Regions from separate parts of the Homo sapiens genome. Here all the other regions are reported to be linked to region 1. The links are microRNA targets in miRTarBase. Many come from high-throughput screens and were not tested one by one. Region 1 holds a microRNA gene; each other region holds the end of a gene's coding sequence.
Evidence for each region. The annotated mature microRNA hsa-miR-192-5p reads CUGACCUAUGAAUUGACAGCC and lies in region 1 at 1,845-1,865, opposite strand. An mRNA with a match to its seed (bases 2 to 7 or 8) in the 3' UTR can be bound and repressed. Matches are read on the target gene's strand: a 7mer-m8 pairs with bases 2 to 8, a 7mer-A1 pairs with bases 2 to 7 and ends in A, and an 8mer does both.

Region 2: miRTarBase lists GAS2L3 as a target of hsa-miR-192-5p. The part of its 3' UTR that is shown has no 7-base or 8-base seed match.
Region 3: miRTarBase lists PCDH7 as a target of hsa-miR-192-5p. Seed matches in the 3' UTR shown: 7mer-A1 at 1,017-1,023.
Region 4: miRTarBase lists ABCB10 as a target of hsa-miR-192-5p. The part of its 3' UTR that is shown has no 7-base or 8-base seed match.
Region 5: the mRNA of CSGALNACT2 is a reported target of hsa-miR-192-5p. Seed matches in the 3' UTR shown: 7mer-A1 at 1,992-1,998.
Region 6: the mRNA of RIC8B is a reported target of hsa-miR-192-5p. Seed matches in the 3' UTR shown: 7mer-m8 at 1,533-1,539.
Region 7: miRTarBase lists STK17B as a target of hsa-miR-192-5p. The part of its 3' UTR that is shown has no 7-base or 8-base seed match.

What each region holds. Positions count from the first base shown.
Region 1 is chr11:64,889,359-64,893,428 of GRCh38, forward strand. MIR192 (microRNA 192) reads right to left here and starts at 1,888; the gene lies at 1,779-1,888. It overlaps MIR194-2HG (MIR194-2 host gene), which reads right to left. Exons shown (of 3, transcript NR_133640.1): 1 at 4,053-4,070; 2 at 3,232-3,468. It overlaps MIR194-2 (microRNA 194-2), which reads right to left and starts at 2,081; the gene lies at 1,997-2,081.
Region 2 is chr12:100,624,187-100,628,256 of GRCh38, reverse strand. GAS2L3 (growth arrest specific 2 like 3) reads right to left here. Exons shown (of 10, transcript NM_174942.3): 10 at 1-4,070. The coding sequence ends at 3,367. Among named protein-coding and RNA genes, the nearest start is that of GAS2L3, 53 kb to the right of the region's middle.
Region 3 is chr4:31,142,504-31,146,573 of GRCh38, forward strand. PCDH7 (protocadherin 7) reads left to right here. Exons shown (of 3, transcript NM_001173523.2): 3 at 1-4,070. The coding sequence ends at 346. Among named protein-coding and RNA genes, the nearest start is that of LINC02497, 27 kb to the right of the region's middle.
Region 4 is chr1:229,514,958-229,519,027 of GRCh38, forward strand. ABCB10 (ATP binding cassette subfamily B member 10) reads right to left here. Exons shown (of 13, transcript NM_012089.3): 12 at 3,884-3,918; 13 at 1,625-3,453. The coding sequence ends at 3,222. Among named protein-coding and RNA genes, the nearest start is that of NUP133-DT, 8.6 kb to the left of the region's middle.
Region 5 is chr10:43,182,787-43,186,856 of GRCh38, forward strand. CSGALNACT2 (chondroitin sulfate N-acetylgalactosaminyltransferase 2) reads left to right here. Exons shown (of 8, transcript NM_018590.5): 8 at 464-2,516. The coding sequence ends at 756. Among named protein-coding and RNA genes, the nearest start is that of CSGALNACT2, 46 kb to the left of the region's middle.
Region 6 is chr12:106,885,371-106,889,440 of GRCh38, forward strand. RIC8B (RIC8 guanine nucleotide exchange factor B) reads left to right here. Exons shown (of 10, transcript NM_001330145.2): 10 at 534-3,946. The coding sequence ends at 645. Among named protein-coding and RNA genes, the nearest start is that of TMEM263-DT, 68 kb to the right of the region's middle.
Region 7 is chr2:196,134,191-196,138,260 of GRCh38, forward strand. STK17B (serine/threonine kinase 17b) reads right to left here. Exons shown (of 8, transcript NM_004226.4): 8 at 1-3,539. The coding sequence ends at 3,257. Among named protein-coding and RNA genes, the nearest start is that of STK17B, 35 kb to the right of the region's middle.

The DNA.
Region 1 (4,070 bases):
GACAGTGTCTTAGGGGCCAGATGTTTGTTGGCTGCCTACAGTCCCCAGGAGAAGGTCCAACTTGCTCTGTGACTTCAGCAAATGTGCACCCTCTCTGAGCCTGTGTCCTCCTGTCCCAAACAGGTTCATGATGGATGCCAGGAGGACCAGGTCCTGGATGTGCGTGCCCAGCAGACAGAAAGGGCTCAATAGCCAACGCCTGTTATTAAGCAATTTGACATTTATTCCTAGGTCTCTATTTCCCATTTTACAAATTTTATTTTGTAGTACCAGAAACCTTTTTATTCAAATGAAAAATTCTGACAGGGCACAGTGGCTCATGCCTGTAATCCCAGCAGTTTGGGGGGCTGAGGCAGGACTGCTTGAGGCCAGGAATTTGAGACCAGCCTGGGCAACATGGTGAAACCCCATCTCTACGAAAAATACAAAAATTAACCAGGCATGGTGGCACGTGCCTGTAGTCACAGCTATTTGGGAGGCTGAGATGGGAGGACTGTGTGAGCCCTGGCAGGTGGAGGCTGCAGCAAGCTGTGATTGTACCACTGCGCTCCAGCCTGGGTGACAAAGCGAGCAAGACCCTGTCTCAAAAAAAAAAAAAAAAAAAAAGGAAAATTTCCTCAGAACCCCGTTGTATAAGAAACAGGTGGGGCTGGGCGCGGTGGCTCACACCTATAATCCCGGCACTCTGGGAGGCCGAGGTGGGCAGATTATCTGAGGTCAGGAGTTCGAGACCAGCCTGGCCAACATGGTGAAACCCAGTCTCTACTAAAAACACAAAAATTAGCTGGGCATGGTGGTGCATGCCTGTAATCTCAGCTATTTGGGAGGCTGAGGCAGGAGAATCGCTTGAACCCAGGAGGCAGAGGTTGCAGTGAGCTGAGATCATGCCAGGAGGGGAGGCTTCCTCCTGGGAGGAAGCCTGTTGCATTCCAGCCTGGGCAACAGAGCAAGACTCTGTCTCAAAACAAACAAACAAACACCACAAAGAAATAGGTGGAAATGAGGCTGTTGTGGGAGGCGGGACAGGGGTGGGGTCAGCTGTCCTGTCCTGGGTTGGCTGCTCTTCCTCTACCAGCAGCTGGGGTCCTGGGCCCTCTTAGGAATCCTAGGGGCTGGAGAAGCTGCTCCACCAACCACAGGGCTGTGCTCCAGGGAGATGAGACTGGCAAAGGAGGGGAGAGTAGGAAGCAGATGGGGAGGCTGGCTCAGGGCCCCATCCTGGGTGGGGGGGCTCCAGCACAAACACTGGGCCTAGAGCACTCAGCCCCCCTTGGCCACACTGCATGTCGGTGGGTGCTTCCTCAGGGTGCAAGACAGAGGCTCAGGATTGGTTCAGCAAACATTTATTGGGCACGCGCCTGGGCTGGGAACTGAGCTCACAGATGGGGAGAGGAGCGAGACATAAGCAGAAACCAGCACCGGGGCTCCGAGAGGGCAGTGCTCTGCGGCAGCACTGTGTGGGGGTGCCCAGGTGGGGACTTAGAAGCTTCAATAAGGCCTTCTGGAGGCAGCAAATGCTTGGACAGAGCTTGAAAGGGTTAGTAAGAGTGAGCCTGGCAAATAAGCTAGGAAGAGTATTGCAGCCCAAGGGAACAGCATGGGCAAAGCATAGAGGTGCCACAGGGCAGGCAGGGCAGGGGCAGGACTGAAGCTGTTCAGGCTCATTCACGGGGAATGAGACAGAGGGAGGTGGGACCATGAGTGCTGCACTGGGGTCGCAGGATCTCTGCTGACTGCTGGACACCCCCGGCCCTCCCCTATCCCTGCAGGTCCTGGTGGCTGGCATTGAGGCGAACATACCTGTGACCTATGGAATTGGCAGCCAGAGGGGAGACGAGAGCACTGGCTGTCAATTCATAGGTCAGAGCCCTGTGCACTCGGTCTCGGCAGCCCACCGACAGCCCTCCACTACCCGCCACCATCTGGCCTGGGAGCGTCGCCACGGTAGTCCTGGCTGGTCTGCTGGCCAGCACCTGCCTCTCCTTCTTCGTGGGTACTGGCCCTCGCCCCAGATAACAGCAGCCCCACTGGAACCAGTGGGCACTTCCACATGGAGTTGCTGTTACAGGGGGCGGGAACCAATTGGAGACCGGGGCCCTGCCTGGCGTCCGCCTTCGGCAGGGCTCTGGAGAGTGTCCCATGCCCACTCACCTGGGCTCCCCAGTCTTCGTGGCCCCAGGTCCATGGTCTTTTCACCGAGGCTTCTTATCATCCGGGGCCCACACCTGGCGCCCCGTGTGCTGCCAGCACTCCTTCCTGGGCAAAGTCCAGGCTCAACCCCAAATCGGCCTCATAAAGCCGGGAGCGGCTCGGATTTACAACTCCTGGGCAGCCTTTGCCCGCTCTGATGACCCCACGCCCTCTGTCCCCAAGTTATTTTGTTTCCTTGTTTCTTTCCCAACCAGAGCTGGGCCTCAGTTTCAGGTTTGGCCACTGTCACCTCTGCCCTTTGCCCACCCTCCCTGCTGCAGCCATGGGGCAGAGAGACAGCAAGGGACAGCTGGCACTTGTCAGTCCCCAGGGACCTCCCAGTGCCTGATTTCATGAGGATGGCCTCGTATGGGAAGCTGAAGATGAGACTAAGAAGAAGTGTGGGGGGCTGTGTGGGGGAGGGCACAGAAAGAGGGATAGTGAGGCAGAGGGGCTGAGAGAGGAAGAGAAGAGTAAGGCCGAGGATGGCGGTGCACACCTGGCATCCCAGCACTTTGGGAGACCAAGGTGGGAGGATCTCTTGAGCCCAGGAGTGCAAGACCAGCCTGGGCAACACAGTGAGACCCCATCTCTACAAAAAATAAAAAATTAGCCTGGTGTGGTGATGCATGCCTGTGGTCCCAGCTACTCAAGAGGCTGAGGCGGGGGATCACTTGAGCCTGGGAGGTCGAGGCTCCAGTGAGCTGGGATTGTGCCACTGCACTCCAGCCTCAGTGACAAAGAAAGACCCTGTCTCAAATAAAAATAAGAGGAGCAGGTAGAGAACTAGAAAGGAACAGAGAAAACAAACAGGGATAGTGGATGACGAGGTGTAGGAAGGGGGACGACAGGGAACTGGAAAAGATGTAGATACACAAACCTGCCGCAGAACATGAGGAACAGGCTGTGAGCAGTGGCTCGCCTGGAAGGACGCTTAGGACCTCAGTGGCCTGGAAGACAGCAGGGGCCTGGGAGCTGGGTGACCTTGAGCAAGTAGCGTAACCTCTCTGAACCACTGTCCATATGTCAATCAGGACTTACGAGGCCACCCTGCACGCTGGGCTGGCCTGGTGGGAAGCATCCGCCCTGGGACCCTTGGGTCTCTCTCCGCTGTGGGGAGAGGAAGCAGCTGCTGGCCAGGGTCCCTGAGTGAGCCCAGGGCTCTGTGAGGCAGAGCTTCCTCTTGCAAAGCGTGTTCTCGTCCCTCCCAGACAGGTTCCGGTGACAGGTGCCAGTCCTGCAGAGACCCAGCAGGCATTTTGGGAGACTCCAAAGCTTCTGGAGAGAAAGGGGAGCTTTTAGAGTAGACTTGGGCCCTGCCCCCTTTGCCAGTGGTGCATACAGGCCTAGAGAGACAGAGGGGGCCGCCCAAGGTCACAGAGCAGGGCCCCAGGGCCTGTGCTGCCCCAACAACCTTCCCGAAGTGGCGTCCCCCCTTCTCAGGATGCAGTCAGGGTGGGATGGGGGATCCCTGGGCTGGAATCCTTCTGCCTGGGGGGACAGACCTGCGAAGGAAGACACCGTAGCTGGTGGCTGGCCCTCCACTCAGCCTGGCGGCCCTTCCCACAGAGGCCTGGGCGAGACCAGCCTCCTGCAGCGTGGTGTCCAAGTGCCCTGGCCTGGCAGAGACAGCGCCCGATCAGGAATCCTGGCTCCACAGCTCTGAGCGCTGATGCTAAGGCCCCCTTATCCCACAGTGGAAACCAAGGCACAGAGAGGAAGGGGCTCGTCCCGGCCACCCCATGGCTGTCCAGGTCCCTTTCTTCCTCAGGATTGGCCACCCTTCAGAGAGGTGCCTGGGTTCAGGAGCCTCCTAGGACAGGGAGGGCGGCAGGGGTCCTACCACTCAGGAAGCCTCTTACCTGAGTGCCGGGCTGGCC
Region 2 (4,070 bases), not on the chromosome of region 1:
CAAACCTAAGTTAAAATTGGATACAAATACTGCTGGCATAAGAAAATATACACAAATTTGGATTCAAATGGGGTTATTATGTGAACCTGGATGTAAGACTACATCCTAACAACCTGTTGTTGAAGCCTTTTAATAAAGTAACAGATTTTAAATCAGATAGATATAAAAAGACTGAAGAAAAACAGTAACTTTTCCTTAAGTTCTCTTATCCATAAAGAATGACAAACTCCATATGGACAGTAAAGTTAGAGGTCATCCAATTTACCAAGGCATTTTGAACACATAAACCTTAAATACCTACTTTAAGCCCAAACAAGGTAAAAATAATCGGCATTTCATTGTGCTCCGAAGTTTAATTTTACATATCATGTTAACAAATTATAGAAAATAAAATAAAAGCATTTTCCATTTTTTTGAAAGTACACATCATTACTTCTCCCAGGTACTTCAGTAATTTAAGCTTAATACTCGTTTTATTAAACATTAAACACAAAAAAGAATTTACAAAATCTTGCACTGTTATTAAGAAGAGATGGAAAGTTCTCCCAACTTCAGCAATGTTAAGAGCTGTTTTTAAATTGTGAAAATGAATAGAAACACTAGCTCTTTAGGAGAATTTCAAAATACATCTGAAGAAACTAATTGTCTTTCGGATATTGTTTATTCAAACAAAACTTTTCGCTGGGTGTGATGGCTCATGCCTGTAATCCCAGCGCTTTGGGAGGCTGAGGCAGGTGGATCACCTGAGGTCAGGAGTTTGAGATCAGCCTGGCCGACATGGTGAAACCCCCATCTCTACTGAAAATACAAAAAAATTAGCTGGGCCTGGTGGTGGATGCCTGTAATCCCAACCACTCAGGAGGCTGAGGCAGCAGAATCACTTGAACCCAGGAGGCAGAGGTTGCAATGAGCTGAGATTGTGCCACTGCACTCCAGTCTGGGCAACAAGAGTGAAACTCCGTCTCAAAAAAGGAAAAAAACAAAACAAAACAAAACAACATTAAAAAAACACTTTTATTTTGGAAGGGTAAGCTATATATAAATAAAAATTCATTCAACATGAATGTAATTGGAGAAATTCCCTACTGCTGAAAAATAGTAATGTATAAACTGACTTCCAATTATTCAAATAAACCTTTTTCTTTTCTTTTTCTTTTTTTTTTTTTTTGAGACAGAGTCTCACTCTGTTGCCCAGGCTGGAGTGCAGTGGCGCAATCTTGGCTCACTGCAACCTCTGCCTCCCGGGTTCAAGCGATCCTCCTGCCTCAGCCTCCTGAGTAGCTGAGATTATAGGCATGTGCCACCATGCCCGGCTAATTTTGTATTTTTAGTAGAGAAGAGGTTTCACCATGTTGGTCAGGCTGATTTCGAACTCCTGACTTCGTGATCTGCCCAACTTGGCTTCCCAAAATGCTGGGATTGCCTGGCCTCAAATAAACAATTCTTTGGCTAATTCTGGAATTTGTGTCAGATGCCTGTGGGATACTTTTATTCCTGATCACATTTAACACAAAACTTAGTGTTTATATACTGTAAACAACATAAATTACATATTGTAAAATCTACTAGGATTCATAAATTGCCTACAATTCCATTTACTTTTTGCTTTCTTTTAAGTTCTAAAAGTTACTGATAAAGAAGTGTTACTTGGTTTTATAAGGGAATACTTGATGATAAAATTCTTCCTGTCTGAAAAGATGCACTAAATATTTCTGATCACTAAAAAGTAAAGCTTCTATCACCTCTTGAACATTGACTTCACTTTCCAAAGATGTATATATCATCTCTCTCAATGCCCAAGTCAATAGTCGAGTTAAACCAAGTATTTGGTGACTGTCTCTTTAAAGAAGAGAAGCATCACTTCTTCCAAAAACTAGCTTGCACACATCTTTGATTTTATCTGTACTCTTCAGGCAAAAGGTCATTTATCTTCATAGAAAGTTTTCTTGCTTTGTAATCTATAGAACACTAGTCGCCAGCTTAAAATGCTTATTCTATGATTGTACATTTGTGTAAACTATTATTTTTTTCTTCAGAAAACACATTTTAGTTTAAAACAGAGAAACACAAACCTGAATACTGAATAACCTAAGATAATTGGCAATACTGTGAAGTTTTAAAAGCACTCTTAAAACTTCTCAAAGTTCATTAATAATTTTTAAAGTCACCATCCCTTAAAAATAAATTATTTACAAGTATCACCTTAGGTTGATGGAGTTTATGCAGTCATTACATGATCAGGATATGCTTGAGAGACTGTGCCTACAGTGCAGAAAACCTTGAACATATCCTGTCTACTTGCCATTGGAAAACTGAAGGCAGCATAACTTTATTAAAGAAAAGTAACCTAATTGGAAGAAATTAATTAAAATTGGTATTGTGCTATCTAGAGAAAAATAATTTCATGATAGAATTTTTACATAGCATAACTCTAAAATTATTTTAACATCATCTTAATTTTAAAGTTGTTAAAACATAATTCTGATGTTTCACATTATTTTAATGTAAAATGTCAGGTCTGCACTCACAGGAAATTACATTATAAAAAATTATTTTTAATATGCTAAAAGCTACTAAATCAGCTTCCCCTGTCACATTGCACAACATGTGAAACATAAGGTGTCTACGTTTTTATAGATAATATAAAAAATTGTTTACAAAATTTGTTTATATTTCAGTAAGTTAATTTGTTGGATTTTTTTTAACCAAAAATATTGGTGACAAAATATTACCAATGTAAATATAAGCCACATGAAACAATCAGTTCCTTCCAATTTGGAAAGCTTAAAAAAATAAATAATAAGAATTCTACCTAACACAGAATAATGCCAAGCTAGTCAGCAGCAGCCATGACTTAGCACTGTTGGATCAGGCAATCCTGATCAGAAAATTAAATTAGGTGCCTTTTGTAGGACAAGTGCCAAACTGTTGCTTTTTTTTTTTTAACCAAAATGCAATTAACTAATAGTAAGAGCACCACCGTTGATATTAGCAGGTATATGAACTCCATATTTAATACATATTCAAAAATAGAGCAACTATTGTTAAAATTCTTGTAGTGTTAAATAACTTTTACATTTCCTGCAAAAGGCAGATGTTAACAAAGATGCTATAGACTGAAAATCATATACATGTCTATTATTAATAAAAACCTTGCAGTGATTTTACAACTGTTTGCTTCAGAAGGGCTCTTTCCAGTGAATTCAGATATGTGAATTCTGATGAACCCTTTCCTCATCCCAGCCTCCATCCTCACTATCCTTAGTGTCTGCACCTATTTAGACAGACACAAATAGGAGAAACTTTTAAGATGTGAAGCTAACACATTCATTCTTCCTTTTCTCTTTTTTTATAATGAGTATGTATTTATTTTCTAGGTTTCTTACTTCCAGTCATGACAAAATAATGGTCATCATCTTCCTTTTTCTTTGCAGTAGGTTTTTTATCTCCACTATCTGCATCCTTAACAGATGAGGGTGGTTTCCTGATTGAAGCTGGGGTTTTGCCACTTCTGGGAGGCCCTTTAGTTGAATGCTGGCTCTTAGCGACAGTCTGTGCTGACTTCGGTGCAGTTTGTGTTTTGGTAGAAGACTGGGGTAGGCTCACGATGGACAGTGGGGTACGGCCAGGAGACTTCAAGGAGCTGGGTCCTGTCTTCTGAAATGCACTTTTATTCTGAGGCTGCTTTTTGGTAGCTGAAACTATATTCTTATCTTTTGATTTCTGTGTGGCTTTTACAGGAGAAACTGAGGACACAGAAACTGGCTGATTTAAATTCAAGGCCGATTTAAGTTTCTGTGCTGGGACTGGCTTTGCTTGTGGGGCTCCATCGGATGGTTGAGACTGTGTTCCTAGACCCGTGGCTATGGTTTTGGAACTGGTTTTTGTCATTTTTGCAGAGGACTGGAAAGAAGGTTTAGGTCTTACAGGTATATTTGCTTTAGGCAGCTTGGGACATTTTGAGGATGAATTTGAATGTGCAGCTAAGTGAGATACTGCATTATCTCTGGAAGAAATATGATTATGTTTCAAATACTTAGGTTGAGTTTTTCCTGAACACTTATTTGGCA
Region 3 (4,070 bases), not on the chromosome of region 1:
TGGGAAGTGCACTCGTGAGTGTGATGAGTATGGCCACTCAGACTCCTGCTGGATGCCGGTCCGCACTTCTCCGGAGAGGAAGAAGAGCCAGCCTAAACTGTCCACTTTCATGCCTGTTGATGAACGAGGAAGCCAGGAAAAGCTGGCCAATGGGGAGGCCGCCATCATGGGTGACCGCAACAGAAACCTCCTGAACAAAAAGTTGACCTCATCCTATGAGACCTTCAGTGCAGCTAGTTTCAGCAAAAATGAGGAAGCCAACCCTGAGGATATTCCCCTTACAAAAACAGGGGAATATAAGCCATCTCCTGTCAATACTCTCACTAGAAGAGAAGTTTACCTGTAGGCTATAAAGGAGCAACAGCAAAGTTCTTTACATGTATGAAAAGGAGAATAAGGGGCAAAAACCTTACAAAGCAAAACGTTTAATCACAAAGAGGGGGCTACCAAAGAGACAAAGCTTTGCCTGCCACTTCTGCCTCCAGATCAGGCCTTTAGTGATACTGTTAGCCTGATTCTACTGTACAATGTAGAAACCATCCTTGTTACTTGCATGTCTAACCCCTTCACTGATTCCCAACACTCACTTTCTCTTCCCCACCCCTCTCCAAAAAAAAAAAAACAAAAAGAAAAGAAAAAAAAAGGGGGATAGTTGCAAGTTTCTTTCACAGTAACTGTACGAAGCCTGATTAGCAGAACACAACACACCCTCATTATCCCTAAGCTGAAGCATGATTTTAGTCACTTTGATTTTGTTCGAGTGTCATCTGGCTGGTCAAAAATAAGCAGGACAGATAAAATGTATTTCAGACATACCATCAGAAAATGGTTTATCACCATCAAAGGCAATCCTTTGAAAGTGATAGAGTCCCTCTAAAGGTACAGTCCTTAGAAAGAGGGACTGTATTAAAAAGTATTTTGGGAATATCAAAGCTTTAATATTCCAACAAAGACTAAGAGAAAAACAATACTCAGTGGGTGATTGCAGTCCTAAATTGTCATATGTTGTTATTTTCAGGTCAAGAGCATCAACTTCAATTCCATACATTCACCAAATATTCTCAGTATACACACAGTCTTGATTACATGTATCAATTTCACCAGTTATGACTTCTAAAAATTATATATATTTTTTCAGAACAAGACCACTATTATTAACTAACTTGAACAATTGTATCATCCAAAGGCCAAAGATCATATGGCAGATCAGGGAAGTCATGAAGTTGATTTGGTCTTGACGTGGAAAACCATTAAACAACAAAAGCAACTGAACCCATGTATGCACAGAAACAATCAAACACTAGTTCATTTTATAGTGCCCAGGAAAATGTTCCTTCTTTTAAAATGGATTTTATTTGAAAGCGCAGAAAATGAAAACTAGTGAGATATATTTTTGGTATTATAATAGGCAATTGGTTGAGGTTCAAGTTTAGTTTCAGGTAATATTATCAGGGAAGATTCCATGTTTTAAAATAGTATTTATGGATCATGGGTAGGTTAAGAAAGATGCATTGGCATATAGTCTTGATAGTTAAGTCCACGATTATCATTTTAGAATCCAGGCTATGCTTGCTGCTCTTTTTATCCACATTTTAAATTACAATTGCATTTTTTACTTGTTCAGTGCACACTTTGATGCACCACAAGTGCATTAATTTTGAATCGTGTGCAATATAGAAATATTTTGAGACTCACAACATTGAAACAAGGTGACACCCTAGTTGACTTTATCACTAATGTGATTTGAACATTATTTAAACAAATCTAGACTGAACATGAAAGAAAGGAGTTTTGGGCAGTGACATTTTTCACAGAATGTATATCTCAAAGGTGAAAGCAGAGTTTTTCCAGTGCAATAAAAAGAAACAGAATATGCAGATTTTGAGCTACTCACTCTATAGAGGATAACCTAACACGGCTGAAAATTGAGCTGGGACATTCAGACGAAAGTGACAATCCATGGACAGAATAGGGAATAACAGGTGTGAAGAGAACAAACTTATCACTGAATGTTTGCAAGCTGGTTAAGGCATAGCCTTGATGGCTCTCTAGCAAACTGTAGAAACAATGTAGCTTTGGGTAGTTTCATGCTTTGCAGAATTTCTTAGACTATAAAGTGACACAGCCTGGAATATAGGTTGATAATTCACTATAGGTCTTCAAAATACTTATCTTTGAAAACCGCTTCTCTGTTTGGTGGGGTACAATTTGGGGGTCATTTCCTTATGCTCTTTCTTAAATGGAGTTTTCATTTTGATGTTAGTTTATGTATAATAGGTAGGATGCAAAAAGATATGTAATTGAAACAAAAAACATTGGACTAAAATATCAGTAATTGAACATGTTTATGTTTGATTATTATTTACACTATGGAAAGATGCAATTCTAGTACTTTGTTAGGAAACTGCATTAAAGCAGTTCTGCCTTGTATAATCTGTAAGTACCTATTAAGACAAAATACTTCTAAAGATACTTATGAAATGTATACACATTTTTTCTTGCACGTTACAAAGAAAATACTCAATTGCATAACACGGATGTTTGACAAACTTTTTTTTTTTTAATGCATTTCTTTCTTTCATGAGACATTGAAACCACTGATAGCTCATTTCACCCTATCTTAAACCCTTCTCTTGTCTATAAAACTAATACGGGTCACACCGGACCTTCGGATTAATTGGATCCACATTCCCCAATGATGTTTGCACCCCATTCAAGATAGCCATGCCATTGTCATTTAACTCGTGAACCTCTCTTTAAAACTAAAATGGATGTGAAAGAATAAAATTCAGTGTACTGTAAGTATTCACAGTAATTCTAGTAGAATTAGCTGTCATAACATGTTTATTATATAATGAGCTGGCATGACACAGAAATATATTTTGTGTTTGTATGACTTTTATTTTAAATAGGTTAAATCTGGTGCCACTCCATATATAGAGTGCTTTTGAAAAAAAATCAATAAAAAGAAACAAAAAAAATAAATGAGTGAATGCAAAATAAGCAACTGTGCCTTTTATACCTGTTGTTACGGTAAAAAAACGGTTGTTGGGTTTGGACAATGAGGGGAAATGGGCTATTCCCAACTTTTTTGATCCTGTATATTTGTCCATGTTTATTTTCTGAACATAATAAATAATATATTAAAAATTTGCCTTCTGACAAACTCAGATAATGGACCAGTCTTAAATATTGTTATGTCATAAAGCAAAGTTAAGGCATTAATATGGGCTGCTTAAATCTGACTAGAAGATGAAAGCGTTTATTGTAAGTGTAACACAGAGATACTATCAGGAGTGAAATCAGTCCATTTGGCAAGGTAAAATACTGATTTAGAGTTTTATTCTTTATTTCTTTTTTGTTGTGTTTCTTTCAGCTATGGTTTCATTTTGGTTGTACAGTATATAAACCATATTTGTTTTCTGTACACAAGACTCTCAAGTGAATTTTGCATGCATTATACATTAGGACACATTTATAAATTAATGAGTAACTATATAAATTTATGTGTATTAAAACGTCTGTAGCTTCAATCTAAAATCTACTGCTCTTTCTGAATCTCCAGATATCATTTCTGTATGGTTTCTGACTGGCCTGCTGCCTGAGTTTCAGAAAACAAGGGAGGCATTATTTTTATGGGAGGAGGAACTAAGATGGTACTGAGGATGTCTGACTGAAACACTACCCTAGGAAGCTGTCTTGTAGGAAAATAGAATAAAACACACAGACCAGAAGAAATTGTCAAGAAGCAAACAGCCATCCAAAAACAGTCATGAGAAATCTAAAGACCTAAATAATCTTAGGTATATGCTCTCAGTGAGAAATAAGAAAATGTGTCCTTAAGCAAAAATAAATAAATAAATAAATAAATAAATAAATAATAAAAAGTGAGCATGATCATGAATATAGTAAATCTTGTGAGTTGTGACCTAGGTGAAGGTGTAATGATAACATCTGGAGGAAGCATCATTTGTTCAGCTACCTAGGGTTTACTTTCAGACTTTTCCTACAGTTTAAAGCACTTGCGTTCAGTGTGGTACGATCTGTTTGTAATGTTAATCATTGACTAT
Region 4 (4,070 bases), not on the chromosome of region 1:
TCATGAGATATTCTCTCGATTTTTTTCCAACAATTTAAAACTGTAAAAACTATCCTTAGCCTGCAGGCTATACAAAAACAGCTGTTTGCCAATCCTTGCACTAGCTTTGTGAGGGAGGCACAGCTCGCACCCAGCACAGGACCTAGCAAAATCGAAGATGCTCAGTAAATGTTTATTGAATGAATTCAGTGGACAGATGACCAGAAAAACCCCATGATGCCTCAGAAATACACTCCAAAGGAACTTTTACAATGTAGTTTTCACATAGTTATTTCATTTATATTTGTTTTGTAACATTTGTACTGCTTTTCGCTTATTTACTTTTGAGACAAGGTCTCTGTCTCCCAGGCTGGAGTGCAGTGGTGCGATCTCAGCTCACTGCAACCTCTGCTTCCCAGGTTGAAGTGATTCTCCTGCCTCAGCCTCCTGAGTAGCTGGGATTACAGGCATGAGCCACCATGCCTGGCCGGGAATTCATCTTATTTTATAAAACTGCCAAAGTTATCAAAAATAAACTAAAACCAGGCCGGGCACGGTGGCTCACACCTGTAATCCCAGCACTTTGGGAGGCTGAGGCAGGCGGATCGCTTGAGCTCAGGAGTCGGAGATGAGCCTGGCCAACATGGTGAAACCCTGTCTCAACTAAAAATACAAAAAGCAGCCGGGCATGGTGGCGCACGCCTGTAGTCCCAGCTACTCCGGAGGCTGAGGCAGGAGAATCGCTTGAATCTGGGAGGCAGAGGTTGCAGTGGCCAAGATCGCGCCACTGCACTCCAGTCTGGGCAACAGAGTGAGACTCTGTCTCAAAGGAAAAAAAAAAAAGATGGATTCCCAAAATGGAGCCCTACTTTTATAAGAATGCATTTACAAGGGTTCGACCTACAATGGTTTAACTTGTGATTATTCTTCGGGAACCTGTCAGGCCCAGGGTCAGGGGAGACCTTGAACATACAGACAAGCCTGGGACGGTATATAACAAAATGCTGAGCTCAACAATGCGAAAATTTTCTTTTGAGTTTCTTCTTGCCTGAAACTGTGTATGTCATTAATGCTGAATTAATTCACAACTTGCCTACGCTTATTTCCTCCTCTGTGAAATGGGGAAGATAAATATTTGTCTAAATTACAGGCTTGTCAAAGTATCAAATGTAACATGCAAACACTCTGGAAACAAAAAAGTGATACCAGAACACAGTGTTACAACTACACCTCTTTATGATCCCTAGCTGCATTCTTGTTATTAATTTTCCCCTGCCTTCCCACTCCTTCAAAACTAGAAGCTCCTTGAGGGCAGAAACTGTGGCTTACTCATCTATCAACTTCACAGCACAGTTCCTTGTCCCTGATGTAGGTAGGAGATACTTATTTACTGCAGTGAAACAATTAAACAATATTTGTAAGTAGCAAACAAGTGATGACATTCAACAAACTTGGTAAGGAGGAATGAATGGAACTTTTAATTACAACATGTTTTTGGATATGTGTAATGTTAGTCTTTTCTTTATTCCTGAATCTCCACAGCCAAATTCTACTAAGAAACAATGTAGTGAGAAGTTTTATAAGAAATGACAGACTGCATCTTTGGTTCCTGGGTCATAAAAAAAAAAAAAGTGACAGACACAGATAAAGTTCACTATAAATTTTAATCTATGATATAAAATATTACCTAAAGATAAAATTGAACATCATGTATCAGAAAATAAAACATAACAATGAAATGCAATTTCGTAAATACTTCTATGGCACAAGGATTATTTTCCTCAGATTCAACCTTGTAATTGTGTTGTTTGCTTTCTGAAAATCACACTTTATAAAGAACACAAGTAGAGCTTGTTAAAAATGATTGTCACAGATGTACTGTTTACTAATTCAAAGAACACTATATTCATTCATATCAATTTTATTCATTAATTATGAACAATAAAATATAATATTCCATGCTTTTCATGAAATAGTGGTTTCTTCTTCCAGTCTAATCAGGGAACTAATAAATGCTTAGTTCATGGGAAAACTTCCATTTGATTTACATTGACTTAATTACTTCTTAGGGTCTAGCCTCATCCATGGAGAAAAAGCACTTTTTCTTGAGGCAACAGCAAATTAACAGCACTGATACAAAATATGGCAAATTCAATGGTTGTAGCATTGCTTTAGGAATTTTGAGACTATAAATAAAACTATAACCATAAATAAAAGGGCTTATTAATATCTTCTTTTCAGGAGAGTGATACATTCTGAAGTTTTCTTGTTATTCTGTTGAATAGCAAGGACTTCCAAACTTAAATGTCTTAAGGCTGAAAATTAGTTATATTCCTCAAATTTTAGCCTTATTAATGAAATTCCAAAAGTATTATAAAATAAGATTCAATTTGTCTTGAAATTATAAATTTGTAACAGATATTTTTCAAAATACATGCCTTCAAACAACTTAAATGCAAAAATCATTCATTCTTAATAATACCTAGCAGTTCATGCCTTGCTTCGCAAAAGTACTCATACAAACATGTGAATTTAAAAAACATGTTTTCCTGTTCAAAAAATAAAGCTTCTGCCCTTTTAAAAACTTGTCAGGCTTTCATGTGCCAAAATGTTGAAAACTGCACATATTCAAACATAGTTCCCATAGGAACACATATTCCTCAGCTCTCACACCTTTGAAGACACAGGAGATGGGCAATATAAATGTTCCCTTCTTTCCAGCTGATGTTAAATAGTTAGGTTTGCTTCATGAGATTATCGGAATAAAGGGTTAAATTTTCAATTTCCATTATTCTATCTGTAAAATTAGACTTAAAAGTAGGTAGAATACTACCAGAAGAATTACACAGTGATTGGTAAACTGGCCTAAAATAATCAGGCTTTTTATTTATAATTGCCTTTTTAAAGTTGTCATTTGACAATAGCTTCAATCTTTAACAGCAGGCAAAAGAAAATGAGGTGCCATGCTATATTAATTAAAATATTCCACAAGAAAAGAAAATACAAAACCTGAAAATAACTTCAGTGCTATAGACATTTAAAAAGTTACAATTATTAAAACTCTGAATAAAAAGATCTTGAGAACAGGTACGTTTCAAAACAATCTTTTACACACTTTGGAAAAAAATAGGTATTTTTCAAATAACTTGATATATGGTTTATGTATTTCATAGTCTCTGAGTTTTTTTTCTGCAACACTGTTTTGCATTAAAGTCTCATATTGTTTACCAGTAATTGCTTCCTTATGCTGAAATAAAACTTTGTTTGTTCATTAGTTTTCTGTATATCCCATTTGGTTTTGAAAGCAGCTCTTCATGTTTTCCATATTCAGTAATTTTTCCTTGGTCAAGAACAGCAACCATATTAGCATTCTTAATGGTGGACAGACGATGGGCAATAACTAACACCGTTCTTCCATCCATCAGTCGATCTAGAGCTTCTTGAACAAGGTACTCATTTTCGGCATCCAGCGCACTGACACAGGAGCACACACACAAGAAAGCAAAGACGTCAGTGACACCCATGTGCTTCCTGATACACACAGCAGCCCTTCCTGAGCAATGAATTTTTACCATGATCAAAATTTCAACTGTTTAGGACTTTCTGATCTCCATAAAACTATACTGTGATGTAAGGAGAAAAGCATTCTGCACAGTTACAGCTTACAGAGTGATTAGGATTGATGGCAACCATGTCTGAAGTGGACCTAGAACTCTCAACTAGGACTCAGTCTGCCCACTGGTTTTCAACTGTCATTATTAATTCAGCTTCCCTCACTTTAGAGTAAAGGGGGGAAAAAGGATTTTCAGTTGTATCACTTTGAGGTACAGAATTAAAAGTGTTTTGGTGAAGGAAGAATTTGGTTTAATACACACAATGGCATATATTATTAAGATATCCTCACCTGGTTGCTTCATCTAGGAGAAGAATTTTGGGATTCTGAAGAAGGAAAAAAAAGGAAAAGATAAAATAATTTTATTGGAAAAATACAAACTCTCAGCAATAAAAAAGGAATAAAATTCTGACACATGCTACAATGTGGATGAGCCTTGGAAACTTATGCTAAGTGAAAGAAGCCAGACACAAAGAAT
Region 5 (4,070 bases), not on the chromosome of region 1:
ATCGCCTGAGCCACGGAGGTCGATGCTGCAGTGAGCCATGATCACACCACTGCACTCCAGCCTGGGTGACAGAGTGAGACCCTGTCTCAAAAAAAAAAACAAAAAAAAAAAGAAAACATAAAAAGTTAATGGTGGTGAGATTATAGGTGACTTGTATTTTCTTCTCCTTTATTTGACTTTTTGTAGATTTTCTACAGGACTTTGAAATTTACAAAGTGTTCTTAAATATTTAACCCCATTTTGATACTGTCAACAACCAACCTTGAGCTCCTTGAGTCCAAGTGTCAGCTCAAAACTGGACTTCCGGTGACTGGGAGTCACTCCTCCATGCCAGGTGTCTCGTGCTACCTTTTTGCTGAACCATCCCATCCCTTTTGAAGCAGAACATTTAAAATTTTATATATATCCCTGTGCTCTGGCTAATAATAGGCAGTTATTTATAGTGTCAATTTTGATCTTACAGGTGGATTTGACATGGAAGTGAAAGGTTGGGGTGGAGAAGATGTTCATCTTTATCGAAAATACTTACATGGTGACCTCATTGTGATTCGGACTCCGGTTCCTGGTCTTTTCCACCTCTGGCATGAAAAGCGCTGTGCTGATGAGCTGACCCCCGAGCAGTACCGCATGTGCATCCAGTCTAAAGCCATGAATGAGGCCTCTCACTCCCACCTGGGAATGCTGGTCTTCAGGGAGGAAATAGAGACGCATCTTCATAAACAGGCATACAGGACAAACAGTGAAGCTGTTGGTTGAAATCATAATTAATGCGTTACTGTATGAACCACAAAACAGCACTATTTATTTAGCCTTACTTCTACTTCCAGATGCAGTGCCTCTTTTGGAGAAGACATGTTTATTTTTCATGTTCTTTCTGACATTACTTTAGCAATTCAACTTGATGTGAGAAGAAAAAACAAATGTTTCAACACAAAATCTCTGTTTTGTGAGAATACTGCACTATGGAATAATTGACAAATTGAAATCTCATATTTGTCCCAAAAGTTGTTTTGAGTTAGTTCTACCTGGTGCCCATGTTCTGATTGTGTGTGGGATTGCATGGTGTCCTGATTGCATCTAGGTGGAGCGGATGGAATGTGCTGGGCCACTGTTGGGTGGAGAGCAGCACATTCTTACAGAGGAGATGGAGCGTTATGAGCATAGTATGTGGATAGGTATCTTCACCTGCCCGCCCCTGAGTCAGCCTCCTTGACTTGATAGCTTGAAGAATCCTTTTCCACTGAAATAGAGGATAATTAATTGACACATCTGAAATCCCCAATCAATCAATCAAGAGAAAGGTAGAACTAAAAACTCCTTAACTTACTGTTGCTTACACCCCTGAAAGTCTGTTTTTAAGCAAATGGGTAATAGTAGAAAATAGGTTAGAATCTATGGCTTGATTAAAAATATGTTATTACATTATCATGTTCAGGATTAGGATTAGTAGTCAGTTGCTGTAAACTATTTTGAACAAACAGAAAAGAACACGGAAACATTTTTAACAGAGCATTTAATTATGTTGGAATACAGGATCCTAGCTCTGTCTGGGAACATTAGTTTATTTGAGCCAGCTCTATCAGGGTCTTCCCATGGTGGTTCAGAATAGATGAGCATAGCATGGTTTTGTTTGTTTTTGCTTTCAATTTTCTAATTTGGCATGGATCCATATGTATTTACTATCCTTTTTCTAATATATTAATATATGCTACATTTGTATTTGCATTACTATAATACTTTGAGTTGAAAAAGAGTTTCATTGTGGAGAGAAAAAGCAAATGGTATGCCACAAGATCACTCTGATTTGAGAAAAGGGAGGAGGGGAAGATAGTCTGAATGGAAATCTGAAATACGGAATGTTTTAGAGAAATATGTCACTTGCATATAGAATGTTTTAATTGAGGTATAAATTAATGAGACAAAGTGAAAAAGAAATTATATTCAGATAGGACTGCACTACATTATTTGTCACACATGGATCTGTTACCATCAGGTCAATTCCTAGTATGCATAAATTTTTTAACCCTTTTAAAAGAGACCTATGTTGAAAACCCCTGAAAATTCACTGAAGAAAAATCATTACTCTTTTTCTCAGTAAATCATATCATCTGAAATATTACAAATTTCAAATTTCTAGGTGCTATATTAATTCAATATTACAATAACTCTTACCTAATTATTCTTACAAGTTTTAAGTTGTGGTAGTTTAGTGATTTTTTTAAAAGATGTGTGAAATGTTCTCTGCAAAATAATTCAGGCCACTGTCTCCTTTTATATATTATTATAATTATTTATTATGAAGACCAGTGAATTACGATATTTAAAGTGAGAGAACTTAATTATTTGCAAAGGTAAGTTACAGCTTGTTTTTTGAGAGAATCAAATGAGTTTACTTTTGTTCCTGTTGTTTTTAACTAGCTTTAAGTTTAAAGATGGAAGCTAAGCAATGGAAATGCTATACGTTTTTGACATTTATTAAATGGTACCAATAAAGTATTTTATTACCAAAAGTTAAATGAAAATGTGATAAATTTATTTCTATTGTAAAGTATCATAAAGACAGAACATTACGTATAACATGTAATTGTGTACTTTAAAAATGAAACACGAGTGCCGCAGCTGTTCACGTTAAAATATGGGGCATTACCAGGGGACAGGCCCCTTGTGCCCCTTCTTGATCACCTGTGCTCACCCTCTCCATAACAGTCACACTCTGATTTTTATGATCGTTTTTACTTGTTTTTCTTCTTAGTTTTCCCAGTTACGTATCTCCCAATAGACTGTTTTGCCTGGTTTTGAATTTATATACATTATTATTTCATTATATATTCTCTTTCATTCAGTGTTTTTGAGGTTCACTCATATTATTCTCAAAATTAGTTCATTTTTATTATTGAGTAGTATTTCATTGTACTGTAGGGAGGGGAAAAACTCCCTCCCATCTTCTCAGGGTCCCAGCTGGCCTTGAAGATTAAATTGGCATAGGATAGATTAACAAGAGAAAAGCATATAAATTGATGTAATACAAATTTTATGTGGTGCAGGAGCCCTCATAAAGAAATAAAACCAAAAGAAGTAGAGTCAGTTACTTACATACTGAATTGGACAAAGACTAGTAAACTGTGAAAATGTGACTGTATTTTGCGGGAGCCTTAAAAAATAGTTATTCTAACAAGGTCTGTACAATATTCTCCTGGTCTCAAACTTCTCGTCATTGAAGATAAAGATGTTTGTTGCCTTTTCTTCCAGTATAGAGAGTGTCTTTCACACTGGAATCCATCTCCTGCTCTTAAGAAACAGCACAAAGGTCAATCACCTTTTTGCACCTGCTGTTTTTCATGTGTCTTTAATTTAAATAGTATGCCGGAATGGCATATTTTAACCCCTTCAGTATGAATGTACTACTATACTTCTTCTACTGTTACTAGATACTTGGGTTGTTTCCAAGTTGTTTTTATATTCTCTTGTTGGTAACTATTTGGGTTGTGTAGATTTTTGTGGTTTGCTTTTGCTGTTGCATGCGTGTTGTCGTGAACATCTCCTGTAAGTGTGCCAGAATTTCTCCAGGAGTAAAAATGCTGAGCCATCGGTTGTGCACATGTTTAACTTTCCAAAGTGGACCACCTTCCACCACTGGGTGAGTTCATTTTGCATCCTTGACAGTACTTAATTTTGTCAGGCTTATTAATTCTTGCCAATTTAGTGGGCTTTAGGCATGAACTGTAGTTATGATTTATCTCCAGTCTTTTTGTTCATTTTTACCAGTTCACAGGGATTCTTCACATATTCCGGATACCAGTTCTTGTTGGTTTAATGTTTGCAGATATCTTCTCCCATCAAGACCAATGTGGTTTGTCTTTTCCCATTTTTGGTGGTACTTTTTGATAAATAAAAAACTAACTTTATTGTGACTATCTTTTTTCTTTATGATTTCTACTTTTTTCAATAGAATTTATTTTTTAGAGCAATTTTAGGTTCACAGAAAAATTGAACAGAAGGTACGTGGAGTTTCCTTAGATCCCCCTGCCCACACACATGCACAGTTTTTTCTGTTACCTACATCTGTCACC
Region 6 (4,070 bases), not on the chromosome of region 1:
AGAGAGTTGGGGAAGGCCAACTAATTTGAAATGAATCAACATGTACTTACATATCACTAGAGACTGAGGCAAAATCAAAACCGACAGATTTATTCCATTGAATGAAGTGTATGCATATCAAATCAGCCATTTAATTGTATGCTCCAACCACTGGGGCAGGTGAAATTTTGGCAGCTTCAACTTGTCTAAAACAAAACCAATCCACCAAAAAAAAAAAAAAAGGTTAATTATTCAAAACAGAAGAGACCTGCTCCTTGTCCTGAGCCCATTTAGACCTTGACTTTTCATACTTTTAATTGGCTTAGTAGGTTTGGCCTGTGTGAATGAAGTCTTTTATCTCCCTCTTCCCTCTTTTTCTTTCCATGCCCCTTTCATCTTTCCTATTACAAACACACAGAGAAAGCTCAAGGGAAAATACTTTGGTTTTTAAAGACTTTTCTTTTTAAAAGGTTGTGGATTTGGGTGGGGGGGAGGGGTGTGTGTGTGATGCTGGTGAATACTTTTTTTTCTCTCTCTTTTATCTCTTTTTCTAGAGAGGAGTTGCTTAAACCAATGGGACTAAAACCTGATGGGACAATAACGCCTTTGGAGGAAGCACTCAACCAGTACTCTGTCATCGAAGAGACCAGCTCTGACACAGACTAAAAGCATCACCTGCTCAACTCTCAATATTGCTTTATCAGCATCTTTTCTCTGTAGCTCCAGGGGAATCTTTTCTCTAAAACATTTATGCCCTTGCTTTGGCTAGAAACACATTAACTGGTTTACTCATTGAGAATCCAGCATATTTAAGAGGTGACCCTGTGTTTTTTGTGATATTGAGGCATTCATACAGAGCTGCAGTTAGACGGGGTTACGGGGGCTAAAAGCAGAAAAAAAATTCCATTTCATCGGGATGGAACTGAAGGATTTTATTCTATAAAGCGGCCCTGGTTGAATCTGGCAATTCTTTTTGCCAAGATCCCTAGCAGAAGATTTAGCCATGTCCTTCCCCTCACTTGTGTGAGTGGCCCCTTCTGAATCTCTCCAGCAGCCAGAGGCACGTGAGAAGCAGAAAGAGCTGGTAAATAAAGCCTTGGGCAAGCGACTTCTTAGATCAGAACTCACCAAATGGAAGCCTAGCAGCTGCTCCATAAACCTAGCCCCATTCTTCATATCAATTTTGTATAAATATATAGAAACACACACACAGCCTCAGACTTACAAACTGATTATACTCTAAAAGTTTGTATGTCAGTTAGCTAAAACTTCAGAATACATTTCTCCCTATAAAGAGTTATAAATGATGGTTTAGTTCTCAGGCAGCTACAAATGCCTATTTATTCCCTAATGTACCTGAACACTAGTACCATAGAACTGAACCACCATCTGTATCAGCGCATGGGGAGTGTGCATTCTGAGGTCTAACCCGGGGTGCCAGGAACACACACATCCTCCATCCCAGCATAGAGAATGGGGACTCCCTGAGTAATGGGAGTTCTTTCATGGCCTCTGCTTGGGGTGGGGGAGTCAGCAGCACCCATTTGTACATATAGGTCATTCATACATCACATTTTAAATTGGGGACTGTGTGTGCTGGTGTGTGTGTGAGTTCTACGTTTCTACCATATGTGATCAGTTTAATAGTAACTTTATTTATTTAAAAAAAAGAAACACAATTAGTTACTGTTAAACTGATAAAGGGTGTTTATTTTTACTTTTAGAATTGGTCCTATGAAGAAGTAGAAAGTGAGTCATGCACTAGACAGTGGGCCTAGCTCATCAGTGGCTAAAGTTGAAAAGGGGTTGGTTTCCTGTATATATATGTATGTATATACACACGTACATACATTCATATATATACATATATACATAATGTGCTTAACCACTGCCTTTTAAAACTTTAAATTAAATAAAACATTGGGGTTGATTCAATTTGGCCATCTGTGTGTGTTTCTTTATAGATACATGGGCTAAACAATACTATTTCACAGTTTATGCTTTTTTAAAGTGCTTTTACATCCATGGTCCCACTTCTAATAGCCTTTTTAAGGACAGGTAGAGTACATGGAGGGTTACTGAAAAGGTCATTTATCCAGAAGTTACCTCTCTGGCAAAGCAAAAAAATCAGGAATTACGTCTTAAAGGCCTTTCAGCTGCCAGAGGAGATGTCACAAAGTTTCTTGCAACTTACTTATGGGAGAGATCTTCAAGAATATCACTCTTAGACTCTGAACTGAAATTTGCATACGCTTCCAACATGTTTTATTAGCTGGCTTTGAAGCTCACAAAAGAATGGCAAAGAAAGAGGCTGCTAGATTGAAGGCAGGCATACTGAAAGAAGAAAAAGGCCAACTGAAAACTAGATAGTGAGATGAGAAGAATAAAACTTCAAGACATAGCAAATCTGGGACTGTCTACTTACCAAAGGATACTCTAGTTGACCCAGAAAATGTGTGTACAACAGTATGGCCCGTAGACTACTTCCTATAATGGTGACCCTGAGTTTTTTTAAAAGAAGAAATTAAATCCAGAACGCTTTATAAAAGGGTAGGAAGAAGACAATAGATGTTAGAATTTCATCCAAAATGTTTGAGGGAGAGGTGAGTGACCCAGGTTTTAACCAACAGCAAAAGAAATGGGCAATTCATAATTTTAGATTAAGTGAAAAGTTTAGAAAAAATTTAAGTATTTTTGTTATTCTACAAATGCATTTTTAAAGTATTTTTATAATTTCTATAATCAAATAGCTTTGGCATGCATGTCAGCTTACCTAAATGAAGATGTGTTTAATGAAATGCCATCTTACCAGCTTTCTTTATGCAGAGTAAGTGTTTGAACAGTCCTGTTTCAGTAGCTGTGCTCTTCTGCTTTCAGTGAGTTCTGTTTCATTTTGCATTTCTCTGCACTGGGCACTAAGCTTTGTTTTTGAAAAGAGAGTTTGCGGGGAAGAAGATGAGAGTGTCTTCATCTGGCACACAGAAAGAGAACTAATATCTGTTAAGTGCTTACTACATGCTGGGCTTTTGATGTATGTTATCTCATGTAACCTCACCTTATCGCATATGAAAGATCCTCTCCAGAAAGCTTATGAAAGTTACCCCACGTCACAGCAAGGAAGAGTCCAACTCTGGTGGCCTGACTCCCAGCACCACTCCTTCCTTTTCCCCACAGCACACCTGGGCCCACACTGTGCCTCCTTAGGGCTCTGAAATGCTGGGAACAGAGTGGTGTGAGGAGGGTGGTCATTCTCAGGCCATTTTAAGCAATAACTATTTCAACAGAACTAGTTTAAAGAGGTTTTTAAGCAGGGAAGTGACCTGAAGTGGAAGTATGAGTGGGAAACTTGCATGGTCAGCACTGGATTTCCAATGAAGACCTGGAATCCGTTAGGATAGGCCAGGGACCAAGGCTGCAGGCTGGCCTCTCTGCCCACAACTCTCCTGACCTTGGAAGCAGGGTACGGAGGCGTGTGTCCTAAAATAAAGCATTTGAGCTGCTGCTACAGAGGAACAATCACCAGATATTGTGACCCTTTCAGATGCCCAGTAGTCCTGGGAGGCAGGCAGGGCAGGTGTTATTATCCCTTCTTTATAAATGAGGACACAGAATGAGGCAGTACAAGTGACTCTAAACACCCCCTTAGTGCCACATCAGTCTCGCCACCTCCCAGGACTAGGTGTCACCTGTATTGACCTCTTCCCCTCTGATTATAAAAGTAATATATGTTCATTGTGGAAAGTTTGGAAAATGCAGAAAATAAAATTAATAATTTACCCCAAATCCCACCATCCTGAGATCATCACTGTTAATGTTTTAGTGTATTTCCTTCCTGTATTTTTTCTATGCATATATAATTTATTTTACTACAAGATTGGGATCATGCTGTATTTACAGATTTGTATCCTGCTTTCTTTAACATATTGTGAGCATTTTCCCATGTCAATAAATATTCTTCAAAAAGTAATGGCTATATGATATTCCATTATGTGAATTGTGGCAGACACTGCTAGTTTCCTTCCCAATATTCTTTCTAACAGAAGACATCATGACCACCACGCCCATAAAAAAAAAAAAAAATTTAAAAAGGT
Region 7 (4,070 bases), not on the chromosome of region 1:
TTAAATAACAAGACTTCTTTGATAAAGGAAGCAATGTGTTGATTTATATTCTGGCACAAGTACCTTATTACTGACTAGAGCAGGGGTCCCCAGTCCCCAGGCCACGACCGGGCTGCATAGAAGGTGGGGGGCGGTGCCAAGCATTACTGCCTGAGCTCAGTTTCCTGTTAGATCAGCCATGGCATTAGATTCTCAAAGGAGCTCGAATCCTGCTGTGAACCACACGTGCAAGAGATCTAGGTTGCATGCTCCTTATGAGAATCTAATGATAAATGTAATGTACTTGAATCATCCTGAAACCATCCCCCTAAACCCCCAGTCCTGTGGAAAAATTTTCTTCCACAAAACCCGTCCCTAGTGCCAAAACAGTTGGAGATCGCTCCACTAGAGAACAGTTAACGGCTTACTTCCTTTAAAGTGCCATTACAATTTCACTGCTCAGAGCTAGGTTCTTTACTGTAGGGAAAATAATTAAAATGACAATTGCAATTGTCATCTATATATCATCTATTTAAAAATCCCATCTATTTAGGGATCCTACCCAAAAAGCAAATTTAACTTTAAATTATCACAACATAACACTTATCTTCTCATGTGTTCAAGTGTTACTGACATTTGTCCACTCACAGGGGCTCTCTAGATTCCTACTTTAGAGAAATACATTATGCTTTTCAATCTTGGGAGAAAAAGAGTAAGAATTGAATCATTTGCTAAAAAGCTCTTAAATGATTGGTCTATTTTCATATTCCAATCAATAACGTTATTTAAATTCACACCTTTGTAAAAAGAGTGGATTTTTATATTCTTTGTGCAATCACTAGTTGCTTTTTTACTATAAAACTTAATATCAGGAAAAAAGGCATGGAAATTTACAGCTCTGTATTCTACTACTTAAAGGTAGATGTAAAGTATTTTAAGATTTTCAGACATTTGTAAAAATGTCTTTTAACAAATGAACTTATAATTTAAAATTCAAATATTTCTTGATTTTTTGGGGGATGGCATGATTCCTCTAAAAATTAAAAATATAATATGGTCTTCAGAAACATAATCATTTCATTATCCAATGACTTACTAAACTTTACTTGCATTATCTTAATACCAAAGGCAAGTAAATGGACAATCAACAATTTAGAAACAACTCATCAGTTTTAGATATACAAGGGCTCAATTTAGATTATACAACGTCTAGTTTATTGGACCAACAAACTACTTAAAGAATTTAAATGTCATAAGAAGAGAACATAAAGTCATATAAAGAATATAAATGTCATAATTTATATGTCATAAGAAAAGAGCTCCTGGGCGGGGGCGCAGTGGCTCACGCCTGTAATCCCAGCACTTTGGGAGGCCGAGGCGGGTGGATCACTTGAAGTCAGGAGTTTGTGACCAGCCTGGCCAACATGGTGAAACCCCGTCTCTACTAAAAATACAAAAATTAGCTGGGCACGGTGGCATGCGCCTGTAATCCCAACTACTCAGGAGGCTGAGACAGGAGAATTGCTTGAACCCGGGAGGCAGAGGTTGCCGTGAGCTGAGATCATGCCACTGCACTCCAGCCTGAGAGACAGAGCAAAACTCCATCTCAAAAAAAAAAAAAAAAAAAAAAAGCTCCTTTGGCACCTGAGTTGAGCACAATATACCACAGCAAAGAATCTTGAAAAGTGTCTAAAGAATGTATTGTATCTATCTATAGATATATACATACACCTGTACATACACACATGTGCACACATACACACACAAGTAGAGAAAACTTTTCCTTAACAAATGCTGAAGACATTAAAGGAATTCACCATGTGGTCAAATAAAGTGACCTGATAGTTATTCAAAAAGTTTTAAGTTATTATTAAAGAATTTGGAAACTTACCAAAATTTTGAGAAGTTAAAGGTCTAAAGGGGGAACATCAGGTTGTTGTTACCATTTGTCAAACTATTTCTTCTGATACAGCAACATGGTCATGAGATCACAGTTATCGTAACATGATAACAGACCAATATAACGGTCATCAGGTGAAAATTCATAAAAGATTACCCGAAAAGGACTAACTTTCCCCATCATTAGGGCTGGATATAGTCTCTAGCCATAAGCAAACATTTTGCTCTCCCTAGTCTCTTGCATTGGTCCCAGCAAAAGACCACAATGAGGGGCCACTCTGCAGATGGCTTTAAGCTGAGCCTCCTCACTCACTAGGAATTTCACACAAGAACTTCAGACGAGCCTGATGTCATGTTTTATGATCACATCAGTCTTGCTACCGCTGACTCGGGCACTGTGTTAATAGACCTACCGGTGCTGTAATTTTTTATGCATACTTTTAGAACTCTGAATGACTGGCTTGTATTCTAAGATGCAGAAGACATCTAAAATTCAGTAAGCTGTCTGAGTGTGTCAACATTTTCTTCTATATTCAATTAATAAATATGTTTGACTAAAAATACAGAATATTTAACTATACCTAAGTATCTTCTACTCTAGAAATTCTGGAGGATTAAAAAACTCTACACTTGCATACCAAATATCTCCATCTTCCAGACCTTATCAGATCTCAAGTAGGTTGGGAGGAGGAAAAAGACATTTGCGTTAAAATACGAAGGCATGCTACTCTTTCCTCTGCTCCAACTTGTAAAGAATATCCCTGATCAGGTTTCTAACTCCCTCTTTGCTCTAGTTAAAGGATCTCTCTCATATAACAGACCACAGAGAATGAAAATCTTACGAAGTTTCAAAATATTTGTAATTGAAAGACATTTTCAATTGTAAAATGTCTCTTGAGCATCTATAAAGTAGAAATTATTTTGGCTTAAACTTCATACTGCTTTCCTAAACAAATTATGTTGATAGAGGCATGGTATAAGAGTCACCTTAGAGAGAGAACCTATTAAATTCCAATGTCTTCACTGTGTTCAGTTTACACCAACTATAATAAAACTCAAGCCACTTTTTTTGTTGATATGCAAAACATTCTGGTAAGTTCATTTGAAGTTGAATTATTTCATTAACATGTAAACTCACATGTACAATTTTACTTTTTGTCATATATTTAAATATTTTCTTATCTGCAGAGCTATCTCAGGATATGAAATCATAACATGCTAGCAACTAGTAATTTAACATTAAAACACTTCCCTAAATTATTCCATGGAAAAGTGCATTTACAATATAAACATGTCATATATGAAGCTACAAATCATAATCTCACTGGAGTGGATATAAAATTTCAAATTCAGTCCAAATGAGTCAAAGAAAAAAGTGCTAACAGAGCAAATCTGAAACAAGTTCATGGGGATTGGGTAATGAGTCATCGAAACGAAATCTTTTGGAAACCATGCTGCTATCCTCTGGGATATTCTCTTTGTCTTCTCTATCACCACAGGTTCCATTACAGGAGGATTTAGAAGTCTTGTCTTCAGAGGACCTTACAGAATGATCCTGAGTTTGAGAGGAACTGGAAGTTTCTTCAGGGTGAAACAAGTTTTCAAAGTCCCACTGCTGTAGCCAAGAATGAGAAAGGCATATCTCTGCTGTTGGTCTTTTCCTTTGAAAGAAAGCACCAAGGGAAAATTGAGAACTAAAAATCAAGTTGAAAATGTCTTCAGTTTGATAGATTATAGACATATTTTTTACTTCTTGTGAAAATAAAACATACTCATAGTATAAAATCCAAACAGTACAGAAGAGAATAATAATGATAATAGCTGCTAACATTTACTGAATGCTTAGTTATATGCCAGGGACTATTCTATACGCTTCAAATACATTATTTAACAATCATAACAAACTCATGAAATGGGTACTATTATTACCCTCATTTAACAGATATGCAAAGTAGGGTACCAGGAGGCTTGAAATTTACCCCAAATCTCCTAACTTGTAAATGGTAGTTAAGTGGAACTTTGACTCTATCGTCTGTGCTTTTAAGCATTACACCATATTATCTCTCATGAAGATAAAAAGTAAAATTGTTTTCTCATTCCCCAATCCCACTTCCAGATATTTTTTCTACATATATGTGCATATACATACACAAACATATACACACACATACACATACACAGCTTCACATACT